2 linked regions of the Homo sapiens genome follow. The protein of the gene in region 1 interacts with the protein of each later gene in a biochemical or structural test. Each region holds a gene or a part of one and is shown in the gene's direction. Other genes may lie near its edges.

What was found.
Region 2: the proteins of M6PR (region 1) and PLIN3 form a complex in vitro, tested with the Homo sapiens proteins (2 studies listed by BioGRID).

Annotation. Positions count from the first base shown.
Region 1 is NC_000012.12:8,943,024-8,946,771, reverse strand, and holds part of M6PR (cation-dependent mannose-6-phosphate receptor isoform 1 precursor), read left to right. Parts: exon of another isoform or gene 1-56; intron 57-366; 5' UTR 367-367; coding exon 368-543; intron 544-1,187; coding exon 1,188-1,354; intron 1,355-2,861; coding exon 2,862-2,971; intron 2,972-3,187; exon of another isoform or gene 3,188-3,218; coding exon of another isoform or gene 3,219-3,236; coding exon 3,237-3,367; intron 3,368-3,748. UniProt on the Homo sapiens protein: Transport of phosphorylated lysosomal enzymes from the Golgi complex and the cell surface to lysosomes.
Region 2 is NC_000019.10:4,865,501-4,869,248, reverse strand, and holds the start of PLIN3 (perilipin-3), read left to right. Parts: upstream 1-1,581; 5' UTR 1,582-1,640; intron 1,641-3,748. UniProt on the Homo sapiens protein: Structural component of lipid droplets, which is required for the formation and maintenance of lipid storage droplets. Required for the transport of mannose 6-phosphate receptors (MPR) from endosomes to the trans-Golgi network.

The DNA of each region.
Region 1 (3,748 bases):
CTGTAGAGGCCAAAGAGGTTTCAGAAGACTACATCAAGCCATCAAACAGTAAAGAGGCAAGGATGGCTCCACCCAAGCTGTCATCATTCTTTTTTAAGTTCTTTCATTTCCCTCTTCCCAACTTTGTAGTTTGTTCTGAAAGACTCACCTATACATTAGACTACAAGTTACATATAAATGAATTTTCTGCTGCAGATGCTCTTGTTACAGAGATATTAAAATGTACTATGTGTTGCATATGCCAGAGAATCTTGTACTTTCTGGATAATTAAAATACCATCGATTTATTACACATTCATACGCTTTATCTCTTTCCTCTCTCTCCTGATCCTACCTGCCCTCCCCAACACACACTCTCTCCCAAAGGATGTTCCCTTTCTACAGCTGCTGGAGGACTGGACTGCTACTACTACTCCTGGCTGTGGCAGTGAGAGAATCCTGGCAGACAGAAGAAAAAACTTGCGACTTGGTAGGAGAAAAGGGTAAAGAGTCAGAGAAAGAGTTGGCTCTAGTGAAGAGGCTGAAACCACTGTTTAATAAAAGGTAAATGAGAAGAACCTTAAAGAGCTTGAGAAAATATTTATGTTAAAGTCTTTTCTTCTTACTGATTTTATTTCATAATGTGCTCTCTTTTATGACATAGAGCAAATTCTCAGCCCAGTTTTTAGTTGCTGTGTGCAGTTTTCTCATCTTTCACAGAAGTGTAGCTATTTCCAAGACTGGATCCAAGAGACCAGCTTGTAGAAATTTAAGGATTATTTGACACCTACATATAATAGGACTTTAGAAATATCAGATAAACATATTTAGGCCGACACATGTCATTATAAGTGTCAGGAACCTTCAGATATATAAATCTGAAGTTGGTCCCTAAGAAACGAGACTATCCGATGAACATGGGCCCTTATTCATTGGAACATGGTTACTAACAGGCATTCTAAAAATAACTAGAATATTGAGCTATCAAGATAGCTCAAGTGTGTTTTAATAATTCATCATCAGCAATAAGGATGGTCTGTCAAGGTTATGAATATCTTAAAATTAAACAAATATTCACTCAGCCATGACCTCAAATAAATAAATCGAGCATGTTGTTTGTTTTGTTTTAATTAAGGAAAGGGATGCTGTTATTCCTGAGGCTGATAGCTAGTAACTCTCCTCTTCTTTCTTCCCACTTCTCTTTACAGCTTTGAGAGCACTGTGGGCCAGGGTTCAGACACATACATCTACATCTTCAGGGTGTGCCGGGAAGCTGGCAACCACACTTCTGGGGCAGGCCTGGTGCAAATCAACAAAAGTAATGGGAAGGAGACAGTGGTAGGGAGACTCAACGAGACTCACATCTTCAACGGAAGTAAGAAAACTCCCCTTCCTACCATCGATTGACTAACTGATCCCAAGTCAATCCCTCTGACAATCCTGTATGTCTTGGCCGTTTCTAGTGTCTTCAGCATATCATACGTGTGGTTCGGCACACCTGAGACTGTAATATACCACAGGATGCCTAATTCCACAGCTCCTCTGTAAGCCACAGCTCAGGACAGTTGTGCATTAAAATCAGTGAAAAACTTATGCAAAATGAAGACTCTAGCCAGAATTGTTTTGTTTTGTTTTGAGACGGAGTCTCTCTCTGTCACCCAGCCTGGAGTGCAGTGGCACAATCTCGGCTCACTGCAACCTCAGCCTCTTGGGTTCAAGCGATTCTCCAGCCTCAGCCTCCTGAGTAGCTGGGACTACAGGTGTGTGCCATCATGCCCAGCTAATTTTTGTATTTTTAGCAGAGACAGGGTTTCACAATGTTGGCCATGATGGTCTTGATCTTTGACCTCGTGATCTGCCCACCTTGGCCTCCCAAGGTGCTGGGATTACAGGCATGAACCACCGCGCCCAGCCAACTCTAGCCAGAATTCTGTAGCCTAGAGTCCTTTTATTCACCCAAATACTTTTAATGAGTTTCACACTAGACTTACAAATACCAACCACCACCACCACTTTTCATCAAATTAATCAAAGTTTACCAGTTAAATTTTAAGAGCTCAAACTTTTTTTTGCAAACTACTCAGTCTGCAAAACTTTACCCACTGATTTTTGTGCTATGGTGGTGATATTTCTTAAAAGTCATATTGCTGGAGAGGACCATGTAAGCACCTATGGTCCAATTCCCTCCCATACAGATAAATAAGTTATACAAGGTAGCTATTTACTCCTGGTAAATAATACAATAAAAAAGTAACAAAAGGGTTTGGGGCTGGGGATCATGTGACCAGGTTCTCCTCCTGTTTCCTAATCCTGTGACTGGAAAGTCGTATCACCTTTTGACCTTGTTTTCTCATATGCAAAACTAGGAGCAGAATCTTTACCTTATTCACCTCACAATTACTGAATCAAATGATATTTTGCAAAAGAACTGAACACAGTAAATACTAAAGAAGAGATATGCATTCCAATCTTAGATATCCACTCTGAATTTATCTGGGGCTAAGTTGAAATCTTAGATGGGCTTACCCCTGCTGCTCAGCAATTGTATGGAACCTCTTTTTTTGCTTTTAGAAGGTATTCAGAAAATGAATCAGTGTTAAGGTATGGATCATAATTGGTTTTGCATTGTCAGTTGCCTACCTTTAATGTTAAAAATTAAGATTATTCTTAAATGAATATCTGATTCTTGTCTTAAGGGAACACAAGTCTTTGTAAGCAAACAAGTTTAGCTTGGCATTTCTGGTATACCAAGTTCGTACTGATGAGGGTTGTTTAGTTATAACCAATTGCAATGAATTACGCAATTCCACTCTGCCATACCACCCAGATCTGCCTCTGCTTTTCCCCCACCCCATAGCTCCATTTTCCTTGTCCCTCCTCAGGTAATTGGATCATGCTGATCTATAAAGGGGGTGATGAATATGACAACCACTGTGGCAAGGAGCAGCGTCGTGCAGTGGTGATGATCTCCTGCAATCGACACACCCTAGCGGTGAGGCACCCTGTGTTGTATAAGCCGAGGGAGGAGACTGAAAGGACTGACCTGAGGTTGGGGAGAATATCCAGAGGGGACACGATACGTTGGGATGGACATTAGAAAACTAGGAGCTCAGTTTCTCTCTGTGTCAGACACGCATCTTCCATGGAAAATAGGCTGCTGAACCAGGAAGGAGCAGATGTTTTTTGGGTTTTTTATTTTGTTGGACAGGAGTCAAAACACTTAACCACCTGAATGTGTTATGCCATCTCATCATCAGGACAATTTTAACCCTGTGTCTGAGGAGCGTGGCAAAGTCCAAGATTGTTTCTACCTCTTTGAGATGGATAGCAGCCTGGCCTGTTCACCAGAGATCTCCCACCTCAGTGTGGGTTCCATCTTACTTGTCACGTGAGTATGCCTTCCTTTATCAGAACAGACCTTCCTTCCTTTTGTTTTTAAGGTCAGTAACTATATGGTGGTACATAAGCACAAATTGTATGTGTACATTATGCTGTAATTGATGGGGATAACTTTTTAAATCCTCTGGCTATAAAATAATTCTGCCAGGACACAGGGCTCACGCCTGTAATCCCAGCACTTTGGGAAGCCAAGGCAGATGGATCACCTAAGGTCAGGAGTTTGAGACCAACCTGACCAACATGATGAAACTCCGTCTCTACTAAAAATACAAAATTAGCCAGCACAGTGGCACATGCCTGTAATCCCAGCTACTTGGGAGGCTGAGGCAGTAGAATCACTTGAACCTGGGAGGTGGAGGTTGCAGTGAGC
Region 2 (3,748 bases), on another chromosome or scaffold:
GAGATCGCGCCATTGCACTCCAGCCTGGGAGACAGAGCGAGACTCTGCCTCAAAAAAAAAAAAAAAATTTAAACATTCAGCTTCTCACTGTGCATTAGCCACGTGGTGCTTTTGGCTACAATGTTGGATGGCACACAATTCTAGAATTGCAGAAAGTTCTATTGGACAGTGCTAGCATAGACCCTGTCCCCACTCACCCCCCCAAAAAAATGCAGTCACAGACACCCAATTTTTCCCATGTTCTTTCTAAAGCTACCAGAAGCTTCATTCTATTCAAATAATTTGGCAGAGGTGGCAAACTGGTGGCCCCTGGGCTGGACAAAGCCCCAGTTGGGTTTCATTTGGTCCAATTGTTCCCTAACAGGCAGGACATGTCTACAGCTTGAACTTCCTGTGGATCTGTGACTCTCCAGGTGGGTCTCCCATAGGGCACTGCTCTCCCCTGCCCCTCTAAGCAGGGCATCACTGCCACCTCCTCAGCAGAAATATTCACCTCCTCCCTGGACCATCTGAGATTGAGACCTTGGTTTATAGACCAAGAGGATAAATAATTTGGGAGGTGGAGAGGGGCGGGGTAAAATCCAAGTGGGGGCAGCTTCAGGAAAAGGTTGATCCAGCAGTCACAGAGCCTGGAGCCTGACCCCTCCATTGCCCCTGGCTGACCCTCTCCAGGCCTCAGTTTCCTTCTCTGCAAAATAGGGATGATTAAAAAGACAATACAGTGCTGGGAGGATGAAGTGGTCTGATGTTGGGCAGATCAGGCCGGAGGCTGGACAAGTTCCCGTGGTGGTTCAAGTCACTCATATAGCTGGGTTGGGCCGGGTGCGGTGGCTCATACCTGTGATCCCAGCAATTTGGGAGGCCCAAGCGGGCAGATCACTTGAGGTCAGGAGTTCAAGACCAACATGGTGAAACCCCGTCTCTGCTAAAAATACAAAAAATTAGCCGGGCGTGGTGGCACGTGTCTGTAATCCCAGCTACTCAGGAGGCTGAGGCAGGAGAATCGCTTGAATCCAGGAGGTGGAGGCTGCAGTGAGCCAAGGTCGCGTCACTGCACTCCAGCCTTAGCGACAGAGCGAGACTGTGTCTCAAAAAAAAAAAAAAAGTGTGTGTGTGTGTGTGTGTGTGTGTGTGTACATATAGCTGAGTCGGAGCCCATGGTGGAGGGCGTGGCCCCTGACGCGCTGGCGAGGGTCACCCTGCAACTCTCCCAGGGTTCTCGCAGCCTCAGTTTGGCCATAGGGGAAATGGGCGACCTGGGGAATCCCAGCACCTGTGCGGCGCCCCCGATCGCACTCACCTCCCAGGGCCAACTTCACAGGGTCCCCAGCTGCGGAGCGGGGGTCCCGTGGCTGGGACAGGCGTGGTCCAAGAGTGCTCCCTCCCCTTCAGGGGCAGGGCGTGGAGTCCTTCCCGGACTTCATGACTTGGCGAGGGGCGGGGCCTAGTGGAGGCGGGGCAGGGAGGAGAGGGGCGGGCCTGGCGCGGGCAATCCCTCAACCTGATTGGTCCCCTCGCCCGTCACTCCAGTGCGCCCCCAACCTACCACGCAGTAAAAGCCACCCCCGCCTCGGCCCGGACGGTTTCCAAGCTGGTTTTGAAGTCGCGGCAGCTGTTCCTGGGACGTCCGGTTGACCGCGGTGAGTGGCGGGGGCGTCTCAGTTGAGCTGGGGGGCGGTGTCCATGGAGTCCTGGGGCACCCCAGGGGCCGGAGGGGTCGGGGAGGGCCTTTCTCGGGGTGGGATTTGCTGGACTCTGCGGCCTGGGGAGGGGTCTTCAGCCCAGGCTGGTCACCCCTCCCCCCAGAAAAATCCAACTTCTGCAACGAAGCTCAGACTTTGAAACCCTCTTCTCACTTCCTGGGACTTTTGAGGGGCGAAAGAGCCCCGTAGAAGGGGTGATATTGAAGGGGGTGGGCTAAATACCGCCCCCCGCCCACCAGGTTTTCTCTAAATTTTGAACAGTTTGCTTTTGGAAACGCCATTTGCAGGCAAGTTTCCTCCTGCGGGCAGAATCTCCGCCCTCCCTTCTGGGGTTTTCAGAGACACCCCCCGCCACCGCAAAGCCCCCTCCCCTACAGATGGTTTTGCCACGGGTGGGGGTGGGGGTTGCCCCAGCTCCTGGCGCCCCCAACTGATTCTGGGGAGGTCTTGGGCAAAGCCTGCCCACTTCCCTCGGGTGGGCGTGGCGACGAGGTGGCTTAAAAGTAGGAAGGCCTATCCGTTAACTGCTTTGGGGTTCTTGTCCCGGCTAGGCCTGGCAGTGGGACCTGGGGCCCTTGGAATTTTGGAAGTCCAGTCTTAGCATGCTCTGAAGTTGCTGGATGGCTGGGTCTGGCCTGGAGCTCCCCTTCTGGAGCCAGCGGCAAGGCAGGTCACTGACCCCCAGGGGTTTCATAGGGTGTTGACATCTGCCATGGCCACCCTTGCTTAAACCAGTTCCAGGAAGTCATGGTGGACAGAGGGGACGGGAGGAAGCTGCCTGAGTCCTAAGTGGGACTTGAGAATCGGTCGAGGCCAGGAGTTTGATGCCTGCCTACCTGGCCCCCTGCCCAGGTGAGCTCAGGCTCCAAAGGAGGTGAGGAGAAGCACAGATTTAGGCAATGATCACTGGGAGGTAGGTATGTCTTCTCACCTGACTTCCCAGTTGGGGGACTTTTGTACCTAGCAGGAAGCTGGTTCCTGGCTGGCTTTACCCCTTTGTCCGTGGAAGCCAGAGTGCGGTGAGATAGTTTATGGAGCACTTACTATGTGCCGGGCACGGATCTGAGCTTCCCCGGAGCAGCGTCTCCTCCAGTCCACAGGGACTCCAGGCTCTTGTGAAACACTTATACACATTTCACAGATGTGGCAAGCAAGACTCCTAGGGGATGCTGCCTTCCCAAACTCCTATTCCTAGTGAGTTGCCAAGCTGGGATTAGAACCCATTCTGGGCTGGGCAGGATGACTCACGCCTATAATCCCAGCACTTTGGGAGGCTGAGGTGGGCGGATCATTTGAGGTCAGGAGTTGGAGAACAGCCTGGCCAACATGGTGAAACCCCACCTCTACTAAAAATATAAAAATTAGCCGGACGTGGTGGCGGGCACCTGTATTCCCAGATACTCTGGAGGCTGAGGCAGGAGAATCGCTTGAACCTGGGAGATGGAGGTTACACTGAACTGAGATCACGCCACTGCATTCCAGCCTGGGCGACAGAGCAAGACTCTGTCTCAAAAAAAAAAAAAGGCCGGGCATGGTGGCTCACGCCTGTAATCCCAGCATTTTCGGAGGCCGAGGCGGGCGGATCATGAGGTCAGGAGATCGAGACGATCCTGGCTAACATGGTGAAATCCCATCTCTACTAAAAATACAAACAATTAGCCAGGCGTGGTGGCGGGCGCCTGTGGTCCCAGCTACTCGGGAGGCTGAGGCAGGAGAATGGCGTGAACCGGGGAGGCAGAGCTTGCAGTGAGCTGAGATCGCGCCACTGCACTCCAGCGTGGGCGACAGGGCGAGACTCCGTCTCAAAAAAAAAAACAAAAAAAAAAAAATGGAAAGAACCCAATCTGGACTCCAGATCTAGTGCTTGCAAAACATCATCATTTTGCTGGGTTCTGCTTAGGGGACATCGAAGCAAGGCCACCAGGAGGTGGGGCCTCATTCCTCTGGGAAAAGATGCTCAGACTCAAGGCCACAGGTTCTTAGGCTCACACCAGAATTCCCCAGGAAAGCAGCCCATAAGACAGGCATGACCTTTAGCCCCATGT